Linked DNA regions of Homo sapiens: all the other regions are linked to region 1. The links come from fine-mapping of genetic effects on gene expression. A gene starts in region 1. Each other region holds a variant in brackets. All regions are shown on one strand. Distances are from middle to middle.

What was found. PIP is the estimated chance that this variant, and not a neighbour inherited with it, causes the effect.
Region 2: its variant is fine-mapped to the expression of FAR2 in whole blood (TOPMed, PIP above 0.99).
Region 3: its variant is fine-mapped to the expression of FAR2 in cerebellar hemisphere (GTEx, PIP above 0.99). The same link has a PIP of 0.9 or more in cerebellum.

What each region holds. Positions count from the first base shown.
Region 1 is chr12:29,144,387-29,152,575 of GRCh38, reverse strand. FAR2 (fatty acyl-CoA reductase 2) reads right to left here and starts at 3,298. Exons shown (of 12, transcript NM_001271783.2): 1 at 3,169-3,298. RefSeq lists silencers at 2,931-3,080, 3,391-3,450 and an enhancer at 6,372-6,873.
Region 2 is chr12:28,974,801-28,982,989 of GRCh38, reverse strand. No RefSeq gene overlaps it. Among named protein-coding and RNA genes, the nearest start is that of FAR2, 170 kb to the left of the region's middle. The variant G/A (reference allele first, on the strand shown) is at 4,808.
Region 3 is chr12:28,928,339-28,936,527 of GRCh38, reverse strand. No RefSeq gene overlaps it. Among named protein-coding and RNA genes, the nearest start is that of FAR2, 220 kb to the left of the region's middle. The variant C/T (reference allele first, on the strand shown) is at 4,456.

The sequences.
Region 1 (8,189 bases):
TAGAAGACCTTAATAAAGGAGTTTGATCAATTCCCTTTCACACTATTTTATTCCTCAGTGGTTCTGAGTGTATTGCCATCATGCTAACAAGGACAGCTGGAATAAAGATAAGTTTTGAGGTCAGAGAGTAGTTAAGGGAGGAGTCTGGGGACAGAGGACTTGCCTGTTTTCTCAGTTCCTCTTTAAGAGGCACCAGAGTTACAAAAGGTCACTAGGTGTATTTGGCAAGAGACTAGGTGTACTTTAAATTGATTTGGCATTTCCTAGGATATTTTAAAGGATGACTTGATCAAACTTTTGAACTTACAGATTTTTTAAATTAAATGAAACAAAAAGGATTACCCCCTCAAAAAATTTCAGTCATTGGCTCATTTTCTCACCGTTCGACGTTTGGATGAATTAGACCCAAACATTAATTTAATTCAATAACTACCTTTGGGATCCAAGAAGTTATTCTGCACCTTTAGTTGAAAATTCTAATTTTGTCCAAATAATGATATTTCAGGAGTATTTAACACACTGAATACTTGCCTACTTTTTGTTTTATTTTCCACCAAACTATAAGGGTCAGAAAGGTTCTACAGTCTTTTCAGTGTGCTCAATCAACCTTCCTCAAGCTACTTCTGAAAAATGGAGGGCAAAGTTTAACCCTTCAACAACAGCATATTTTTTAGAAAAGAACTATTCAAAGCAAGTAGACATTTTTTACAATTATTACCTCTTTTTACTTAGAGATAGTACAACCTTGAAAATAAAGAAAGTAGAAGGTGTCATCTGTTGTCTTTATTTTGTCAATGAGGAAACTGAAATGTAGGAAGACTGAATGACATGTCCAAGAGCACCTAAGTGAGCAGCAGATAAATTTCAGGTTTGTACTGGAGAACTCACCGTAAATGTGGGATTGCTGTTCAAACACTGTTATTTGGTTAGTTTTAGACCAAGTTTGTCAGCCTGGGGTCAGGATATAATTTGTAGGACCCAGTTCAAAATGAAGATCCAGAGCCTCTTTGAAAATTATTAAGCCAGCAGACGGTGATAGCAGAACATTACCAAACGCAGGGCCCTTCCAAGTGCAAGGCCCTGTGCGGTTGCAGTTTTGTATTTCCATGAAGCTGGCCCTGCCTGGAGCCTCTGGACATCTAGAATGTAGGAGGCTGGGCATCAAGGAGGCCATGAACTCCTGAAATTGTAGGTGGAATTTTGTGTTAATATGTATGCATTTGTCTTTCATATTCCATAGCTTTCATCAGATTCTCAAATTGGTCTGTTACCCTCTTCAAAGGTAATACATGTTCCAACAGAGCCTACAATGTCAGAATATATTGGTAGGGACAAGCATGCTGGTGGTCACTGTGCATGATCCTTCACAAGGCTATATTTGTGAATAAGTAAGTTTTCATGAGTGCATGGGAATTAATGCAAAATCAAGGAATTCTTAACACTGATGAGACGTTGCCAGAAACAAATGCACTCAAGAATGCTTCTTCCTCAGGAGATAGGAAAGCAGATGGTGAGATGGTCAAGATGATCATATGCTTTATAAACCCCAAAGTGATACCCTAATATAAGCCATTTTATTTATTTTCAACCTCTCCCTCTTCCTCTGTAACTGGATGTCACATTTTAGCTTCCTTTAAGGAAAGCATATTTTCATTTACTTTAATTTCTCTAATAGCTGTATGATTTACCAACTCATGGTGATTTACATCTCTTTTATAGATAATTATAGCCCAATGTTAGAAATAGGAGTAAGTGAGGAATTTGTTAATACAGCAGGGGCAGAAGCAGCCCTCAGAATTAGGAAAAGAGTACTGTAAAGACGTGGATCCTGAGAAATACTACCGATGAAATATTGACACACGCGTCGGCCTGGTAAAAACCTCATGCCCATCTCCTAGAAGTCTCACACACAAATATCCCTTCTGCGGAAATGCCTGCTCTTGCAGTTTAGGTGGCTGCCTTAAGTTTTTATTTAGTCCCTTGCCCCCCTTTCTAAATTTTGGACTAACTACACCTGTCAGTCAAATCTCCAGCTCTTATAAATGGGAATATACAGAGATGGGTAATTGAAACCACGGGGTAATTCTCAAATTTCCATTTGCCCAGTGTCAAATTTCTCTCAACCTAGCAAACAGAAAAGCACGATCTACCTGAATTCCCTGGTCACTTTTCTGACCCTACTCTGTCCTTGCTCATCACATAATGGGGGCACTTTACGTGATTCAACGAGTGGCCAAACTCTTGCAGATCCAGCGATAACCTTGGTTGCTCACACCACATAACTCAACCGTGGAAGAAATGGTGCCACCGCTGGCAGGTGAGACGCCTTCCTCTGGTTTGTAGGATACGATTGGGCATGAATTGTTTTAATAGACTGAGACTGCCCCGCGGGTAATTCTACTTGCTAGGAGTGTTGAGCAGCCTTCCTGCAAGCCATCTACTCCAGTTGGGAGTCTGCTGGCACCTGCTCCCCTGCACACCCCCAGGATGCCCAGGCCGCAGGAAGATGTCTAAAACTTCCTACAGGGGCAAAGCCCGCCCTGGCCTCACCAGTCGCCCCAGCGCGCGTCAGCCACGACCCCGGCGAGGCCCAGGTGGGAGGGTAGGGACGTGCGCAGCCTGGGGTGGGGCTGGGGGCTGGCGAGGACCTGCTCCGGGGACCAGGACTGGGCGCCCTGGCGGTCCCAGGCACCGGGAGGGGACCTAGGACCGCTGCCGTTTCACACGTGGCCCCGGCATTTTCGCGCTCTCTCCAGGAATAGCCCCAAGGGCCCAGGAGGCCTGGGTGGGACTCGGCCCCGCGCCTCTCTTCCCGGGTCCCCAGTCCCCAAGGCGCGGCCCCCCACATTAACCTTGCTGGGTCCTTCCCGGCTTTCTGCCCTTTGCAACCCCCGCGCGCCCCACCTTGGCGGGCTCCGCCGACGCCAACCGCGCGTAAACGGCCGGTGACGATTGGGGTGCAGCCGGGGGCAGCTTCAGGGGGCAGAGCCTCCGCAAATGCTTCTCTCCTCCCACCCGGCCTCACACCCACCCTCCTCGAGGTCCCGCCGGGAACCGCCCCGCCCTGCGAACCCAGCCGAGCCCTCCCTCCTGGGCCACCCCCAGTCCGGTCTCTGCTTTTGGAGCGCGTGGGCTCTGCGAGCGCCAGGGCTGGGGACCCTGGAATACCTGTTCCTCCAGCACGAGGATGGGGTCCAACTAGTGGTCCTCTAAATCCTGCTCCTTCCCCGAGGCTACGGGAAGCGCTCCAGCCACAAGGAAACGGCTCCAGTCTTTCGGCTCCCAAACGTGACACTCTATATATCCGGCTCGGAGACTGGGTGTGGGGCGGGAGGAAACCACCCTCCCTCCGACCTTCCCCGGCTCCGCCGCTGCCTCGGCACTGGGCGCGAAACCGGCGGCAGCCTCAGCCCGGGGCGGGAGGAGGGTGAGGGGCCAGCGAAGGCCCTACAGGTCGCGGGGGCGACAGCATCGTGGGCAGGGCGGCCGCGCGCGCAGGCCCGCCCCGCGCTTCCATTCGTTCAGCACCAGCGGATCCACTGGCTATGACTCCCGCATTTGTGTGGTTTGGGGGAGGGGAGTTGGTTTTGGTTTCGGTGGGTTTGGTTTGTTTGTTTGTTTGGGGCTTTTGTTTTGTTTTGTTTTGGGTTTTGGGGTTGGTTTTTTTCTCCATTTTTTAATCAGTGGGCGAGGGGACAAGGAAGCTAGAAAGGCGCCCCTCTCTGGTGTGGGAAAGGAGAACTCCCACACCGTGAAAGGTGGCGGGGTAGGGGGGTGGAGGGAGAGACCGAGACAGGAGAGAGATTCAAAGGTTCTAGTCTGAACTGAACGCTTGGGGGACATACCTTTCCCCACCCACCCTAGCAGAAAAGGCAGCCAAAAATCCCAGTTTACTCAGCTTGACTACACTGCACATCCCGTGGGAGGGATGCTCTTGTATCTGCTAAAGACATTGCGGAGGCGCCCTGCAGTGACCCACGAACGCAGTGGCTTTTTAAAACCCAAGGGCGTGAGGGTGGAGGGTGATGCGAGGACTTCAGGTGAGGCTTCCTCACACTCGGGGTTTGAAGGGCAGAAATCCGGCTCTGCCTGCCTATGGTGGGGTGGGGGTGGGTAGGAGACTAGAAAGGATCAGAGATGGGGGCCGCAGAAACAGCAGTGAGCCAGCTGTGCTCAGCAGCACTTCTCCGGACTTAAAAGAAAAAAAGATGTTTCATTTCTTAGCCTGGTAGCTTTTTTGGGATTTGGTCATTGTTAAATTTTAAACGGAAAAACAAGCTGCCAGGGAAGCCTTGTAGAGGGATGGACAGGCACGTGAGTGGAGCCCTTGGCCTCAACCAGGAAGTGCTGAAAAACGGCCAACGCCCATCCTAATTCCCTGGACAATGTAGGAGGTAAATTTCCAAATAAATATGGTGTGTTAAGAAAAATAGAAAAGAAATATTGTCCTATAAGCTGTTCTGATTCTCCTCATTATAACAATCCACATGCAATTAAAGAAATAAAATTTGACTTTTGAAAGTTAGAATTAAGGAGTGATTTCATGAAATTAAAATAATAACACCCATCTTGAATTCTCTACTACTGGGCTCTTTAATGAAATGTGTTAAGCTAAGTGTAGCCTAAAGGCACTGACTAATTTCCTCTGGTGACCGCCTGAATGCAAGAGACAGAAAAAAAGTTACAACCAAATTTATAGTATTTTTCGTTACCCCTCCCCTCCTCAAGAATAAATTTGAATGTATCTTCAAAATGTGTGTGACAGCACTTCAAATGATAATGTCAAATGCTGGTGAAAACGTATAGAAATCACTTAACAGATAGCAGATGGAAGGTAAATTGTAATCACGCTTTTGTTGGAAAGCAATTTAGCAACACATTCCCAAGGTGTTCAGTAACGAAATTTTTTCTTGTTCTGGACCTAGATTCCCATGTCTTACAATGTATTCAAAGGAGATAATCCATAAAAGAGAAATGCCGCATGTACATAGTTGCATATTTATTACCGAGTTGTTTATAAAGTAGGAAATTAAAAGCATACTTTCAGTGGGATGTTCATAGATAAAATACAACATTAATTATAGATTACAAAACCACAATTTGATTATCACCATTTAAAACGCTATTCATATATGTAGAATGTATTAGTTTGCTAAGGCTGTCATAAGGATGCACATAAACTGGGTGGATTAAACTATAGAAATGTATTATTTCATAATTCTGGAGGCTAGAAGACCAAGATCAAGATGTCTGCAGGGTTGGTTCCTTATGAGGGCTTTGAGAGAGAATTTTCCATGATGCTTACCTACTTCCAGTGGTTTCTTGTTGGCTTGTAGACACATGACCCCTGTCTCCTATAATCTTCATATGGCATTCTCCCTATGTTCATGTCTGTGTCAAAATTTATCCTTTATAAAGATACCAGTCATATATGATTTAGAGCTCACCTTAATGGCCTCATTTTAACTTTACTAATTAAATTTGCAACAACCCTATTTCCCAATAAGGTCACATTCTAGAGTACTGGGAGTTAGGACTTCAATATGTGAAACTGGCAGGGGCGGAGAAGAACGCAGTTCCACCCATAACAGATAATAACAAAAAGAGGCAATGTAGTGGGTTGAATAGTGGCCCCAAAAGATATGTCCTGAGGCAAATCCCCAGAATCTGTGAATGTGACCTTATTTGAAAAAAAGACTCTATATTTAACTAAGTTAAATATGTTGAGATGAGATCATCCTGGGTTATCCAGATGAGTCCTAAACCCAATGGCAAATATACTCACATGATAAAAACAGAGGGAGATTTGAGATACACACACACTGGAGAAGGTGATGTGAATATAAGGCGGAGACAAACTGGAGCCACGTGGAAGCCAGAGAAGCCAAGAAATGCCAACAGCCACTAGCAGCTGGAAGGGGCAAAGAAGGATTCTCCCCCGGAACCCCTACAGGGAGCATGGCCTCAATCTTAATTTCAGTTTGCTAACCTCCAAAATCATGAGAGAATAAATTTCTGTGTTTTAAGCCACCCAATTGATGTTAACTTTGAAAGGAGTTAGCCAGCTTGCTTTAGGCAGACAGTAAGGAAGGGTCCCCAGAGAACCTCCAACCCATGTTTTGTGCAGATAAGGGAACTTGCATAGAGGACTTACCTAAACATGCCTTCAGAGGACTAAGGACCCACATGCACACTGGAAGAATGGGGTGGAGCTACCAGGAATTTGTGCCTTATACAAATAGGGAACTCAGCCTTATCAGCTTGTATGTAAAACCCCTTGTATTCAACTGTAAAGGGGGCAACTAGGAACCTGCTTTCAGGACCCCCTCTTTGCTTAGAGCTTTCCTTTTACTTAATAAATTCTACACCACTCACTCTTTGAGTGTCTGCATGCCTAATTTTTCCTGGTTATGAGACAAGAACACAGATCTAGCTGAGCTAAGGACAAAAAAATCCTGCATCAGTTTGCGTGCTCGCCTGGGATACCTGGAGAAAGAGTAAACAAAGACTGTCCCAAACCTTTCTCTTTCCTTTCTGTGCCTTCTTGTCCTCAGACTTTTTCTGAAGGCAGATGCAGCACGGAACCTCTGGTGAGCCAATTAAGAATGAATGGCACAGCTACAGAGGACAGGATGCTGGAGAGGAACCCGACACCACCCCTCCATCATTCTTGGGGGTTGGGAATGTCGGCCTCGTTCCAATCCAATCTTTTCTATGGCATTTTCCTTCTTTTTTGGGGGATTGTCACGGTGCCTATCTCTTCTTTTATAATGTTAAGGGTATTATTACACGCTGCACAGATATTACTAGGTAGAGTGAGCCTTTGGCCCAGTCATCAGATATGCAATTCAGAACAACGTGATTTCTGTTCGTTCTTACAGGCATTCCACACCCCCACCTCAATGGTTAGGGGTGTACATATGGGACACACAGGCAAGCAATGACTCCCTGACCACCCCCCCCATGCCCCCTGCTGGGGCACATGGCCAAGTTGGCCACATGCGCATGCTCTGTCCAATGGCCAGGCAGGGCAGGAATGAGCCTTGGGTCCCAAGGCAGTCTCGGAGGCCAAAGTCCCCACACAGCTGGCTGGAGAGCTGGCCAGCGTTTCCCATTCACTGCCCCCTCCCGCCACATGAAGTCTTCCTCCCCTGGCTGAGCCAAGAAGAGGGTTCAACAATTAAGAGTTTTTCTCCCTGTTAGAAGAACCCATTTGCATAAAGCAAGAGGTTTTTTTCTTCCTTTTTTTCCCCTGCCCCAAACCATCCTCCCCACCCTACACTTAAGCTATTTTATTTTCCCCCTTTTCTCCACCATGTCAGGAGGTAGGTTTCTTTTCCTTTCGGACGACATCTTATTAGGCCCAGACCCCTAAACACGAGACACTCTTTTCTCTCCCTCGTTTGAGGAGGAAGCAGCTCCACAGCTTTTCCTTAGCATGATGAATTCCTGCCAATTAGGCCCCCTATCATTTCATGGATGGAGGTCATGCTAGTATCCATGGCATAAATGAGGTCTAGGGAACTCAAAGCTTACCAAAAACAGGGAGGAGGCAGCACATGGCTAAATGCAGGTAATTATCACCACCTAGGCCTCCCTGTTAATATGGGGGGAAAAGCAGCATTGGCACCCATGGGCAGCACCCTGTTGAGGTTACTGGGACTTGGGGATATGAAGATGGAAGAAGGAAGGGGGGCCTCTTCTCTCTCTCCCTCACATACCCTGGATATTTCGCAGAAAGAAAAAAGGACTAGGGACGCCTTGTTCCCCTCTTCCTAGATGGGTAACCAATAGTTTTCAATCTATCAGGAGTCTTGAATACCTCCTGAATCACTGGGACTCCTCTGGAAAAAAAAAAAAAAGAGATAACTTCTTTTTTCTTTTTCCTCCTCTGTCCTCTCTTCACAGATGGGTAATTGTGTCCCTGTAACACAGGACGCTTTCCTCGGATGCATCCCCCAAACTGGGAAAAATTAGTTTCCTCAAACCTTAAACTGCTTGGCTTAAAATTGATCTTGGAGGAGGGGAACCCAGAAGGCTGACATGCTGGCAAAAAGTAAAAGTTCTTACCAGTCAGACTTTTGGCCTGTCTCTCCCTGTGCAAACTGGTAACATAAATGGTAAAGGTCACTGTTTACATCCTCTGTAACATTTTGATTAATGGAAAAAAGGATTTATGAGGCCAGTCT
Region 2 (8,189 bases), 170 kb after region 1:
CCTCCTTTCTCTCTCCACAGGAGGACCGGGCAGCCTTTTCTGGAGAGCAACCTCAGCCAAGGAGCGGATGCCATAATTGCTTTCCCTTTTACCTCACCACTGGGACAGCTCTGAACACTTTATAGAGTTTGCTCCCTCAAGCTTGCATTCCTTACTTCTCATAGAAGCAAAATACTGCATTTCTTTTGATCTCATAGAAATGAAAAGGACTCTCTACGCCATGGCTTTTGGTCTTGGTTTCTGTTTCTTTGAATTTGGCTCCTTGGTGGGGTCCTGGGGATACTTGCACTTCACTATTGTTCAAGCTTTCAACTGAACTTAGAGGTGAATTTAAATCAATCCCCTAACAACAAAGAGATGTGTGTCAGGAGGGGTAGTGGTGACTCAGGGACAGATAAATGTAACTTCTCTAAGGTGTAAAGCCATATACCCTCATTCCCTAGAGGGGAACATATAAAAAGCCACTAGTAGAATGTCTTCTTCTATCAATTTCACCTGTTGATCTAATTGTAGGTAGAGATCCATAAGGAACTCATTGAGGGTTAGGGAGAGATTCGCTACTCAGATACTGATTAGGCAAGAAATGTAACACCAAGTGAAGAAATGGAGTCCAAGAATTTTCCTAATCCTGAAAAAAGTAGGGAGTGTGGAGAGAGGAGTTGATTATATAAAACAGAAGGGCAGATACATTGCAAAAAATGTTAAATTTTACTGCCATATATGTGACATTCAAATTATTTATAGCAGGGAGACCTTTATTTCAAAACTAGCTGTCTGATCTTGAGCAAATTACTTAACCTGGCCAACATATGCTTCTCTAATATGATCAATTAGGAATTATCTGTACTGAACAGTGTTATTTTGTGGATTAAATGGAAATGTAAAAACTGGTTGACATAGTATCTGAAGCATAATGGACTCAGAGAATATTAGTTCTCTTCCTTTCCATGAACTCAACTGTTAAAACACACAAGTGTATATAACAGTTCTATCACTTTATTTATTTATTTATTTTTCAGATGGAGTCTCACTCTGTTGCCTAGGTTGGAGTGCAGTGGCTCAATCTTGGCTCACTGTAACATCCACCTCCCGGGTTCAAGCAATTCTCCTGCTTCAGCTCCCCCAAGTAGCTGGGACTACAGGCGCCTGCCACCACACCTGGCTAATTTTTTTTTTTGTATTTTTAGTAGAGATGGGGTTTCACTGTGTTGGCCAGGCTGAGTCTCAAGCACCTGACCTCGTGATCCGTCTGCCTTGGCTTCCCAAAGTGCTGGGATTACAGGCATGAGCCACCACACCTGGCCCTATCACTTACTTTTGAAGTACCTATTAAATCCTAGGTGCTTCACAGATTTTGCCTACATTTCATCATTTAATTTACTGTATAAATTAATTCATCTTTGTCTTATTCTGTCAGGTTAATGTTATCATTCTCTTTTTACAGATTTATTGAGACACAGAGAAAGCCAAGTAACTTGCTCATAATTTCACAGCTAGTAAAAGGTAGAATCAAGAATTGGAGCCATATACTTTGATACAAAAGTATTATCACACTCTTTTCTTTTCCTAAGCCTGCTGACCAAGCTTGCACAGTTCCCTCTGGGGAAAAGATCTATCGACCTACTTTAGATTTTATCAAAGTGAAAGAGTATTTTTTATTCATTCAATGATCAAGATTGATTTATTTTTCTGAATTACTTCAAGAAACCTTGAGATATCTGATAATCTAGAAAACATCTGGTCATTTCTTCTGTGAGTATCCTGACTACTAAAACTACGTTACTCATTTAGTTTTGCCTGGTTTTAATATATATATGTCTATAAATTAATATATAGATATTATATAATAATATATATACATGCACATATATACACCATGTGATACAGTATATATTCTTTCATATCTGACTTTTTCTACTCAACAATATATTTGTTAAGATCATTTACTCTGTGTGTGAAGCTGTAGTTCATTTGTTTTCAAAGATGACTAGATTTCTCTGGGATGAATATACCATAATGGGACATTGAACAGTTTTTATTTGGGGGCTGTGATGAATAGTGCTGTGATCAATATTCTTGTACTTGTATTTTAGTTCATAAGTCCTTGCATTTCTGTTGGAGTGGAATTACTGGATTATGAGGTATGAACATGCTCAGTTTTAGCAGATACTGCCAGTTTTCCAAAGTGGTTATATGCTTCACACTTCCACCAGCAATGAGTTCCAGTTGTTCCACATCCTCATCAGCAATGTTATTGTGAGTCTTTTTCATTTTAGCCATTCTGGCAAGTGTGTAATGGTATCGCATTGTGGTTTTAATTTGCATTTCCCTGATGACAGTGACGTTGAGCTTTTTTTCTTATGTTTATTGGCCCTTTGTATAACCTCCTTTGTGAAGTATGACTTTGGCTGTTTTTCATCAAATAGGCTATCTTACTGATGCGTAAAACTTCTCTGTACCTTCCGGATAGGAGCCCTTTGTCAGTTTTAAGGATTGTAAATGTCTTCTCTCTCTTAGTGTCTTGCCTTTCCCACTTTCTTAATGGTGTCATTTGAGAAATAGAATTTTTCGTTCTAATATAGTACAATTTATTAATAATTTCTTTCAAGGATAATGATTTTTATGTCCTGATTATGAAATCTTTCCTTCCCTTAGGTAATGAATATACTCTCCAGTAGAAACGTTATTGTTTTGCCTTTCACAAAGATCTACAATCCACCTGAAATACATATTTGCATGTACTCTGACGTAGAGAATGTTTCATTTTGTCCACGTGTATCCAATTGTCCCAGCAGTACTTATTAAAAAGATTATCGTTTTTCCATGGTTGTATAGTGCCACCTTTGTCTTAACTCTATAGTCCACATATGTAGACTCTACTTTTTTTCCCTTGGTTATCTTTGATTCCTTGAGAAAATATCATGCTGTCTTAATTACTATTACTATTTAATGTCCTTAATTATTATTATTATTATTATTATTATTATTTTTTTTTTTTTTGAGAGAGGTTCTCTGTTTCCCAGCCTGCAGTGCAGTGACATGATCACAGCTCACTGCAGCCTCGATCCGGGCTTAAGCGATCTTCCAGGCTTAGGCGACCTTCTGGGCTTAAGAGATCTTCCCAACTCAGCCTACTGAGTAGCTGAGATTACAAACACATGCCACTACACCTGGTTGATTTTTTTGGATGAGGTCTTGCTATGTTGTCCAGGCTGGCCTTGAACTTCTGAGCTCATGCAATCCTCTTGCCTAGGCCTTGTATAGCCCTGGCTTTCTTAAACTTTTGATATAAATTTTAGCAACTTGTCAAGATCCACCAAAATTATTCAAAAAACTCCTTTAGGATGTTGGGGGAATTCCACTAAATCATTAAGATCAATTTGGGGAGAATTGACATGCAACATTATTCATCCTTTTGTTTCTATTTATTTATGCTTACTTTAATGTTTGTGCTATTCCTTGATACATTTCTGTGTAGAGGTCTTATGAGGCTTTATTTAGATTTATTCCTAGGAATTTGGTATTTTGAAAATAACAAATGCCATCTTTAAAATTTAATTTCCGTTTTTATTTGTAGCAATTGAATGCAATATAATTTATATTTTATGTTACTCCTCATTTCAATCAATTTTTCTTAATTTTCCATATGTGCACAAAAATATGTGTATTCAGTAGTGGTTGGACACAATGTTCTAGTGAATTAGTTAAACTGGTTAATCATGTTATCCATACATTCTACACCTTTTCATTTGTTTGTTTGCTTCCAAACAAGCTTTTTATTTACAGATACAAAACAAGACTCTGGCCACAGGTGGCAAGGGCATCCCAGGCTCACCTGCACCAATGCCTTCCTGGCCAGAAAGGGCCTATAGGACCAGAAATGTCAACTCTCCCCCATCCCCTAGTCAAAAATAATTGGAACTCCTACCAGAAGGGTTACCCCAGTTAAAACCTACTGAACCAAGAAGAATGAGACAAACCAAGGGAGATGCCAATGAAAAACCAGTGGCAATCAGGCATGAAGGTGGCAGCTAGCCACTCATACCCCAATGACAGGTCACCTTGGAAAAACTGTCCCCTGTAGGGTTTCCAAGGATGACATCTTGTCCTCCCCCTTGGGTTGGTCCCACTCTTGAAACAAGATAAAACCCTAGAATCTAAAAAATACCCTCATGCCCCCAGAATTCCAAAGCAAACTAAACCCACCCCACCCCATTCTACCCTTGCCCAGAGCATTTTGCTGAAATTAACTTACACATGCCCATCTAACAGGATCCTGTTCTCAGGAGTGAGCCAGTATGTCACATCCTCATATGCTCACCGTACTCCTCTCAGGTCACCCACTCACACGTATAGGTAGAAAGGTGAGCCACCACAGATGCTCCTAGCCAGATGCTAAAGTTTCTTTACTGGCTTTTTTTGCTTGCTATATTTATTTACAGTGTTTATTTATTTAATATTTATTGTGTTATTCACTAATCCACTAATGGATTCTAATGGATTATTTGCTGAGAGTAGTGTGTTAAAATCTCCCCACTATAATTATGAACTCATCTATTTCACTTTCTGTTAAGTGTTTAAAATATATTTTGAGGCTATGTTCCTTGGTGCATAAAACTTATAATTGATATATACATTCCTTGTGAATTAAACATTTTATCATAAGAACATTATCTTTTATAGTACTTTTTTCTTATATAACCTACATTTTTTGATATTGAATAAATTTGTCTGATATATCACCTTTCTTTTGGCTAGTATTTATATGACATAATCTCCCCATTCTTATAGTTGCAACCATTCTGGC[G/A]TTTATAATATGCATTTAATGATTTAAATGCATTGAATATTAATTTACATGTACCTCTTTTCCCTTAAACCATAGTGATTTTCTTTAATTTTCCTCACTATTGACTTGCATGCCTTTATTAGTATGTATATTATATGTATTTATAGTTTACATGTCTTCACCCACATGAAACATTATTATAATTAGATAGTCAAATAAGTTATGTTGATCACTGTATTTACTACTAACTTTGCTACCTTTCCTTCTTCCTTCTTTGAGCTTCCTTTGGAAATTGGTTTCCCTCTAAGAAACCCTTTAGTGTGTGTGAGCAAGAGACAATTATTTTTGTCTGAAATGGCTTTATTTTATTTTAGTCTTAAAGGCTATTTTCTCTGGGTATAGAATTTTAGGTTGGCAACTATTTCTTTATTATTTCACACTCTTCTGGTTTCTATGTTTTCAATTGAGAAGTGTAATTATTGCACCTTGAAGAACCACCTTATTAGCACTTTGATACTTTCAGGCAAACTTTTATAACACATTTGTTGTACAGCTTTTCCAGTTGTCACCAGTGGAAAGATTGAGCTGAATTCTCTACTACTTTATTAATTGAAGAGTTTATTATATTTTTGCCAAGTATGAATGAACCAATGAGTATCAAAAAAAGATCAACTTTGTCTGAAATATCTTTCTTCAGTCATCTTCTTCAAAGGAACTAATGATATAAGTGTCCAACCTTCAGTCTTAATCAGGTTTCTTGATGGGATTCAGATGCATCTAATCATGTGTAGCAGATACATGACTATATTACAGATATCAGTTGCAAAGACTATATTGCAGGTATGCATGAGGACCCTCTTGGAAAAGAGCTTTAATGGAAAGAGTGTCAGCTAAGGCTGATGGAATAACAGGGCCTTCATGGTGAGAGTGGTAGTGACAGTGATAATTTCTTTTCTGTTCTCTTGGATTAGCATTTCCTTCCTTAATCAATCTGAACCTCTACCAAACTTTTGCTTGAGTCCAATGCAATGGGCATATGAAGTGAAATCAATAAGCACTGTTTTCACCAAAATATCTGTTCAATATTAGGTGATAAGCTGGAGTTGTTTTGGAACCCATTTCATAGCTAAATCCAAAAGGGGCAAAGAGATGTTCACTTTGTTTTGACAGGAAATATGGAGCATTTAATGCTCCATGACATGAAAAAAATAACTATGGTAGTGAATACATCCAAGGATGGGTAGCAGCACTACTTCCATGAAAGCACTGGTGATTAGCAAGGATTAGCTGTAATCAGTACTTGTGATTTTGTGGACTATTCAAGCTTTAAAAATACAAACCCTTGAGGGATCTGGAGCTGATGAGAAAAGTGTTGGATGCCACATTATAACTTCAACTGTGGTTCTTAAATGCATCCATACAACCTGGAAAACAGGAATAATGCTGATTTCTGGGGTACATTGATGACGTTCTGGGTTAGTAAGCAAGGCTTTCCAATGAGCTCAGCTAGCTTTTCATGTGAAGTTATAGAAACAATGAAATAGAACCCCCGATGTTCACTACTGGGATGCCAGTATGCTTAGTACATTATGATGACTGTGGTATTTTACCATTAACCAAATAGTCACCACTGTAGGTACTGTCTTCATTCAAAAAAATACTTCTTGTATGGAGTAAGGCCTTCCAAAGCCAGAGCCTATAATCAAAATAATGAAAATAATTCAGCTAAGATTGAAATCAAGACCCTATCTCTTGAAGTTAACCTGTAGAAGTTGTGCTATTTAAGTTAGCATGACCTGTTTTCATGTTGCTCTTTACCATCAATGAAAAAAAAATTTCCATCATATTTCAGCTCCATAAAGCACATAGTCTGTAACAGGCATTGTATTGACACTGCACATGCAATTTCTCATTAATCTTCACCACAGTATTAGAGGATAGGCATTAGAAGAAAACTGAGGCAAAGAGAAATGATCTCAACCATGATTTCAGAGTTGGTAAGTAGCAGTGCCAATGTTTGAAGTCTAGTCTGTCTATACCAAAGACTATGATTCATCCAACCCTCAACACTGCCTCCTCTGATCATGAATACTCGTGTTGGAAAGGAAACACTGTGGTAGGGGATTTCTTTACAGATTAAACTAGGTACATTCACCTCTAACTTTTCCTTGCCTGTATTATCCTTCAGGGCTGGACCATGGCTGTTACAAAAGATGGCTTTTAGGATAGACAAAATTTCATCATAAAAGCACAGGGGAAATTTGAGAAATTCTAACTACGTTTCTGAACACTATGCACATTTCTTCATAACTGTAGGATACATAAATCGAGCATATTTCTTGTCTGTAACAGTAAATATATTTTAAGTTTACAAAGAAAGCTCTTTATCTCAAGAATATAATGTACACAGAGACAAGAGAAGCATTGTTATTGAGGGCAGAAAAATAGAAGCCAATAAAACTATGCCCTAGAGCCAAAAGATATGGATTTATGGGAGTAGAGAAGGAGAAGAAAAGAGGGAGGAATATACAGAGAAAAAGTCACAGAGAGAAAGAGGCAAAAGTGAGTACAGCAAGGAAATGCAATGCAGCCTATGCCTATGGAAGAAGAAGCAGGGATTTAAATATTTGCTCCCTTCTTAGAAGTTAGTGACATGTCAATTAATTTTTCCCATTTATAAGAAGAAGGGAAAATCCTAAGTATTATGTGGGGTTTTCTGTTTGTTCATTTTGAGGATATGTCCTTATATAATTACCATTATATAAGCATTAACCTTTATTTTGGGTGTTCTTTTAAGGCCCAAATAATAAAACTGTCCAATTCTTAGTGGATTTATGATGTCATACGGACATAATTAGAGCTGGATTTCACACAGTGCAAAAAAACTGGAGTCTTCTTTCTTACATCAAAAATGTAAAACAAAAGAAAGAAAACATTAAAAATGTAAGAGAAACCTGGAGTTAAATGTTAACTGAAGTCACCAGCTAATAAACTTGGTCAAGAAATGAGTAGATATTTCTTCTCTTTTTCTAGCCTTATTATGCATTTACTAAAATGACAGTTAGAAGTCTCTATGTTCCTTGACCCTTCCTTTTATGCTGAAGCATATCTTGATGATGCAATATTGATATGATAAATCAACTATGGAATTCAATTTGTTGTTGCGAAAAATCAGAGTGGTAGGTACTTCAAGCTAGGCAAGTGGACTGTTTCCAGAAGTATGTACAGTAAAAGAAATGAAGAGACTAGGTAAAAACCAGGGAAGGCATAATTCTCAGGCTGATTAGAGGCTACAGGTCAAGCTGACACTGTCAACTGTCATGGCCTAACCTTGTTTCATTCTGGTTTTAGTGTTCAAGAAGCGTTACTTGTTTATTTCTTCATTCGCTCCAAGCTACTCACC
Region 3 (8,189 bases), 220 kb after region 1:
GCTTCAAGCCACAACTGGCTCTATGAAGACCACATTATTCCACTCTTCAGAATCCTCTGGCCGATTTCCACTGTTCTCCAAATAAGGCTGAAATTCTGCCAAGGGAACAAAAGCCTACACAAAGTGCTCTCCTTCCTCACCAACTCCATCTCCTCCTGCTCTGTCTCCCCCTTTCTGCTCCAGCTACTGTGACCTTCTTGCTGTTTCTCTAGCAAACCAAACCTACCACAGCCTCTGGGCCTCTGCACTGGCTTTCCCTGCTGTCTGGCAGGCTCTGCCCTAGATATGCACCTGGCTTCCTTCCTCATTTCATCCAAGTTTCTGCTTAAATGTTACGTCCTTATAGAGGCCTTTCCTGATTCACCTTATCCAAAATAATTTCCCACTTTTACTCTCCCACACCAGATAGTCTCTATTGCTTTAGTTTTATTCAAAATATTTATTATTACCTAAATCATAACGGTGTGTTTATTTACTTATTGCTTACTTCCTACGAGAACGTAATATCCATGAAACAGGTTTCATGCTTTTCTTTTCTATGCTGAATATTTAGACCCCTAGAACAATGGCTTGCTCATAGTAGTGTCTCAATAAATATTTGTTGAACAAATTGATGAATATCCCAAAATAAGACCTATAAAGACAATGTCCAGATTGGGCTCTACATCACAGAGCCAATATTAGCAGCCAAAGAGTATCTTGACAAAACAACAGTGAGAAGGGAGGGGCGGGGGCATCTAGGGAGCAAGGTCTGGGTATACAAACAACCCAGGCCAGAAACAGAAGAAGGCTCTCCCAGGGGAGAAGAAATGCAGGTTGTGAAAGCAGAAATCTAAGACATTCATTTCAAGAGTGGAAAAAGAGAAGACTATTGACTGGTGATTGTGAGAATAATATTAGGATGACAAGCAACCCAGCTTAGGGCATTCTGGGACCCATGAGGAAGAATTAGAGTTGGGTTAGGTTTCCCTATTTTTTTTTTAAAGAAATGGGGTCTTGCTCTGTCATCCAGGCTGGAGTGAGGGGTACCATCGTAGCTCACTGCAGCCTAGAACTCCTGGGCTCAAATGATCCTTCCACCTCAGCCACCTGAGTAGCTAGGACTTCAGGCATGTGCCACCACACCTGGATAACTTATAATTTTTTTTTTTTTGGTAGAAACATGGTCTTACCATGTTTCCCAGGCCTGCCTTAAACTCCTGGGGCTCAAGTGAACCTCCTGCCTCAGCCTCCCAAGGTGCTGGGATTACAGGTATATGCCACCGTTGCTGCTCCTGGCCTAGGCTTCCCCTCTTCTGACGGTGGGGGCTGAATCAGAATTATGTTGATTGGTTAATAATAGCCCCACTCTGTGCTGAAACCAGTGTGGTCAGGAAGACATGGTCCCTCACAGAAAAATCTCAGGTCCCAACTGTGACACCTTTTTTATTACAATATAGTTCAACAGCGTGATTTGAAGGTTCTTTGAACTACTGTGATTTTATGTCAAGCCGAATGCTGGAAGTTAGTCTATTAAAGCTCTTTACATCGTATTCTAAACATCAAAACATGGTAACCACATTCTAAAAATTTGTTTTTGAGAAATGAGAACCCCTACTGAGCCACATAAGAACATCTACTAGTCTTACTAGCTTGTGGAATCACCTTTGCATACATACTTTAAGACAGCAGAGTAGGGATGGGTCTTCTTGATGTTATTTATCAAACAGCCATCAACAGTGAAGACTCAGGGCACAGCTAAAAATATAAATAAGTTACTTGACACCCCAAATTTGAGACACAAGCAACTAGATATAAATCTCTTTTCTCTATGAAATAAAGTACTGATAAAACCAACAAAAAGGGGACCTGAGAATGAATATTTTCAACCCCATATATTTTCAAATACAATGAATGCATATTTACTCAGAAGAAATTACCTACAGACAAAAGAGCATCTAATTAGCAAATTTTAGTTTTAAAAACATGTTTTAACTTTGGGATGTTTATAGGCAAGTTTGTTTATCTAAAATAAAACACACCGCATTGAATGTCCTAAAGTTACTACAATGTTAATTCATTTAGTACTCGGCCTGACTAACGCGTATCAGTTGAATAAGTCTTGGCAGTATGCAAGTGGAAGAGATTGAAATAGATACTATCATGATTTATAAACAAAAAGGAGACTGACTAATGTTACATGAATCTATTCACACTTGAGAGTGCCAAGGTTTTTAAGTTACAGTGCCAATCTCCATGATAGTGAAATAATAGACACAAACTGCCCTGGGTTTCATTCACCCATATAAATGAGGTGGGATCTCTGCAGGTGCAGGTGTGCGCGGCAGGAGTACACATATGCCCACAATATCAGATTCTCACTCCGCCCATGCAGGTGAGGTGTGGAACGACAGAAATATTTTGGATGCTCTCCTCAAAACTGATGGAACACAGACCCAGGAAAAGGCCTCCATCACCACAATGTAACCATTCCATGTAGAGGCATGTAATTGGGATGGGCTCTGGAAGTGGATTTGAAGTAAATGTTAGTGATTCATCCAGGACTGTAATTTCTAATTTAGGAGAAACACAGGTGCCTGAGTTTATAACAGATCTCTCTTCTGAAACCTCCAGCTATGCACTGCTGATTTGTTACAATGGTAGAGGTCCTGAAATGTTCTCTTTAAAATATAGATGACTTGGAGAAGGGGCTGATTCTAAAATTGGGGCAGGAAAAATCCAAGATGAGCTCAGATCATCTTGTATCACAAGTACGTAAGGTAGTACACAAGTATTGGATCATCTATATTATTAATAAGTGTCCCAGGTGATGCTAAGCTCATCAGTTCTGAACCCTATTTTGACAAGACTGCCTTAGAAAAACCACCACAACATTTTATCTTTCAGTAAATGGTTGAGGGATATGAAATGGTGGTGTTTCCCAGGTTAAAGTCAGATTAACTGCACTACCAAGCAGTTTCTAAAGTACATCTGCCCTTAAGTTGAGTTGACTTGCATTATTTATGGACCATTTAGACAAAATTGATGTTTCTTATAGTTTATCAAACTACTGAGTGTTTCTCAGGGTAAGGAATGTGCTACCAAGATAAATAATGGAGGCCACAGAGCATTAGCTATGGTCTATATAGAAGCATAACCCAACCTCCCTGACAGCTATAACCCTACCCTATAAAGCAAAGGGAGCGAGTGAGCTCACCCAGCCTTTCCTTCCCTCTATTGTTGAATTTCCTCTTTTGCTGGTTCTGATATTTTCCTTTTTCATGGATTATTCTTTCATTTTAGTAAAGCATATCCACTAAAAGTCTCTTGAGAAAAAAAATGCATGGGAGGTAAGTAATTTGCAAACTTCCATGTCTGAAAATGATTTCACTTGTATCCACATATTTGATTGATAGTTGAAGTATCAAATATTTTAAGATAAAATAATTTAACTAAAGTTTAAAACTTTCCCGACAATGTTTAGTGCCTTGCCTTGCCATCTTTCATCTATCAGTTTTGCTGGACAATAAGCCATGCTTATTTTCTACTTTCTCCTTTCTTTATAGCTCATTCCTTTCTCTGAAAGTCTTTAGGATCTTCTTTTTGTCCCAGGTATTCTATAATGCATGTTGTTATGTGCTTGGCTGTTGGTATTTTCCACTCATTTAGCTGGAATCTCATGTTATTTTGTTCTGGGAAGCTTTCTCCTATTTTTAAAACATAATTTACTGTCTTCTATTTTTCTGGTCCTTTTTTGGGATTCCTGGTCATTAGATATTGAGTCTCTTGATTTGATGATACAGGAGTTCTCATAGCTTATCTCATGGGACACATATGGTTCCTGTCTATAAGGAGTTCACATATGTTCAATTTTTTTTTCTCTGTCACCCAGGCTGCAGTGCAATGGTAATGGTGTGGTCTCGGCTCACTGCAACCTCTACCTCCCTGGTTCAAGCGATTCTCCTGCCTCAGCCTCCTGAGTAGCTGAGACTACAGGTGCATGCCACCACACTTGGCCAATTTTTGTATTTTTAGTAGAGAGGGGATTTCACTATTTTGGCCAGGCTGGTCTTGAACTCCTGACCTCGTGATCTGACCGCCTCGGCCACCCAAAGTGCTGGGATTTTATAGGCGTGAACCACTGCACCTGGCCAGTCATCTTTTCTATTATTATATTTATGAGTCTTCTTAGAAATTTATGTCCTTGATAGTTGTCCAACAAATGTTAACCTTAGTTCAGCTTTAGTCAATGTGGATTGTTTTTTCTTTCTTTCTTTCTTCTTCTTTTTTTTTTTTTTAACCAGGAAACTGATGTTGGAGAGAAAAAGAATGTTTGACTTAATGATCTTGGTGGGGTCCTTTTCATAGCAATTCAATTGTTAGAGTTCATCTAGATGTAATCTTAGTCTTAAATCAGTTTCCTGGTAACTGGGTGAAGACTCATTTAGTGTCAACAGCATGCTTAAATGATCCTAG[C/T]GGCATTATTTCAAGCTCTCATGTATTTCACTTGGTAACCATTAGAAGAATCAATCAGTCCTTGGCTTATCAAATGAGATTAATTATGGCCAAAAATGAGACCACAGTGAAGTCAACTAAGCATCAGCTTTAAAAGTGTTGTTTCTAAAGGCAATAGCTAGCTTTGCTCTTTGAATATTGGACAACTTCAGAGTCAGGCATTTGAAATGCCAAATTTTAAATACATGTGTGTAGTGGTGTTGACTTCCCAACATAATGCTAAATATGGTTCATTTTCACTTTCTTGATATTTTGACCTCTAGTGTAGACTACACCATCTTCCTGTGTTACACATAGACTAGGCTAGGGTTTGCCTTCAACCGTTCATTATCTTGATGTCTTCTTGGGAAACTTTGGGATATTAAGCCACTTCAGATGGGTTTGACTATATTTGCTATAGCATCAGAAGGTGCTATTACCTATCATTCTTTTTTTTTTTTTTTTTTTTGAGACAAAGTCTTGCTTTGTCACCCAGGCTGGAGTGCAGTGGCCCGATCTTGGCTCACTGCACCCTGTGCCTCCCAGGTTCAAGCGATTCTCCTGCCTCAGCCTCCCAAGTAGCTGGGATTACAGGTGTACACCACTACTCCTGGCTAATTTTTGAATTGTTAGTAAAGACGGGGTTTTGCCATGTTGACTAGGCTGGTCTCAAACTCCTGAACTCAGGGGACCCACCCACCTCGGCCTCCCAAAGTGCTGGGATTAGAGACATGAGCTGCCACACCCGGTCCTACCTATCATTCTTTTTTGATTTTTTAACATATCTTTCATGATTACTATCATGCCTAAAATCATCTTCTCTGGATATCTCATATGTTCCTTTCTTCCTAAATGTTGATTATTTTAGGTATCCCTGGGCCTAAGTTGCAATAAAATTTTCTGGAAGGCAGGCAATATGTACTATTGTTATAATGCCATTCAGTAATATCTGCTTTATCATTTATTTTCATTTCATTTTCATTCCTTTTTTCTTTTTTTGTCTTCTTGTAATACGGCCTAGTGGAACTAGCACGGACTTGAGAATCAGACAGACTTGGATTCATGAATCTACCACTTGTCCTGGCTTTGTGACCTTGATTGGGCTAACTAATCTTTCTAAGCTTAAAGCTTTAAAAGTGACCAAATATGCTGATTTTGCAAAACTGTTACCATGATTACATAATAAAATGAATCTCATCTTACTAATATGTAATTAACATGTGTAATTTTGAATAACATGATTCTACTAATTAGGGTGTTTTTCAAACCTTGTTGTTCACCAAAATCACCTGAGACACTTACAAAAAAATACAAATGCCCAAGCCTCAGTGATTCTGACTTGATCAATCTGGGATAGGGCCCAGACAGTTGTAATTTTTAAAGGTCGTAGGTAATCCTAATGTATAGCCAGCACTGAAAACTATCTGATGAGAATTCAGTGAATGACAGCAATCATCATTCTAAGATGATGATGAAAAACTTCTTAGGAAACATACAATGGTGACAATTCTTAAGCCACCACAGGGAAGATGAGAATCTATGGGCTACAAAAATAATCACCTTATTTTCACATACCTGTATGATTTGCAGTGCTAGAGAAAGAGTCATATGGGGTTTTCCTTGTTTCCTCTATACCTACAAAGACCCTTGAACATGGCTTTATAGATCCTGGAGAATAAGTAGACACCAGTTGTCTTAATACCAGCAAGATTTAAAAGAAACATATATTTTAAAGTAGTTATTACTCAGGCATACTCCACCTATCCTCATATATAAAATTTGATGTGAAATTAAAGAAAAAAATCCCTTGAAATAAGTCAAATAACTATTAAATGTAAATGTACAGATATGCTGAAATTTTTTAAAAAATTATTTCTTTATAAAATTTCAAAAGGGAAACAAGTTTGGAAAACTTTAATATGGGTACTAAAGAAAGTTTTAACCTATTTTAAGATAAACAAAAGTCAAAAGTTTTTCATCATCTTATTTGGAAGAACATGCACAATTATGGTTTTTGCTTTCAGTCTAAAACAACCCATAAATCTCATAGCAGTTTGTTACTAGTATTGAGGGATCCATAATTAAGTTATTCCACACTTAAAAGGTAACTCTAGAAAGTAAGTCAAAATAAACATTTTAGCATGCTAACAAAACCAGAATAGGGGTAAGGCCACCAGGGAAGAATAATGGCCTGACTTCTTTTGCAGCTTGTCCAGAGGTCTGAATACAAGGAACATTAATATACCCTATTATGTCAAAAGTAAATAACATTATTATTCTATTACTGATCATAATTTTTCATTGCACTGGAAGAGGCTGTATAAACAACAAAAATAACCACTTAAAGGAAATAGTGCAATGTTTGGAAATGTAAGATAGAAAATTTGCAATAGAATATTTGTTCCAGAATATTTATATAAAGACGCATCAAAGGATAATGGTATATCCTGGTGGTTTTTCCCATGAAACGGAACTAACATGGTATTAACATATTTTATACTATTACAGAACACCAAACAGTTGCTAGGCACTGTGATAAGTGCATCATCTTATTCAATTTAATTTTGACTCATAATAACTTAAACATTATTATCTTTGTTTTACCATTGAGGAAACTGAGCTCAAAGAGATTAGGTCCTTGCTATTCAAAGTGTGGTCCACCACCAGCAGCAGCAACAGCAAAGGCATTGCCTGGGTACCTAAAAGAAATGGTGCAAGGATAGGCTTTTCCCCAGAACTCTTGGTTGGCATTAACAGTTTAAGGAGATCTCCAAGTGATTCTTATGTGAGAGTAGCACTGGTATAAGTGAGTTGCCCAAGGTCATGCAATTAGCTGCCTCTGAATTTAGCTTAGTCACTGTTGATATAAGGCAGGCTCTAAAATGTGTACCCTAGGAAGTAAATGATACGTGCTATTTTTTATGAAGGTAAGGCTGTGAAAATGAGTATCGTGCAGGGCACTCATAGGTCAACCCAGAATGAAGGAGGATAACAAGGGTTGTGTACTCCACAGGTATGAGTGTGAGATGCATCCCTCTGCATTCACAGCAATGGGGGTCTTCTGCCCTGACTCTAAGGAACAAATTCCATCAGCTTCTCCAACTACCCAAAGTGTCCACGCCTCAAAGTTTCCATCCCCTCTCCACTCCATACACAGGCATAAGAGCATTATCTTTGATGGGGTCAGGGGAGGAAATGCTCCACTTTCCCCTTGCTGTCATTGTCATCACCATCTCTGACTGTCCTCTGAGCGTGGGAGTTAGCTCACGTTCCTATAATGAAGTCCCTCATAGAACAGCAACACTTGTGGGATTCCCTAACAATTGAAGATATTTCTTATTATAGTTCTCCAACTTTTTGTAGAGGTAAAGCCCCCTCATTTATGTCTGGGAATCCCTATGGGTATCTCATGTGTGTTCAGTTAAGTCCTGTCAGCTACCACTTGGTACCCTCTGTTTTTCTCTCCCACCTCTGCCTGCACAATTTTCCTATTTCCAAATCCCTTCACTGTATCCACAGACACTGCTCTTCAGGCACTCACAACTGTGGCTTTTCCTGAGAACTTCTCTGCCACCAGGCAGCCACCAACACAGTAATCCTGGAAGTGCTTTGGAGATCAAGGCTGCTATAACTTGTGCAGCATGCAGGAAGAAAGGCACTGTCCCTTCGGGGACATCACTGGGGAACTCATAGCAAAGCCCAATTCACATGACCAA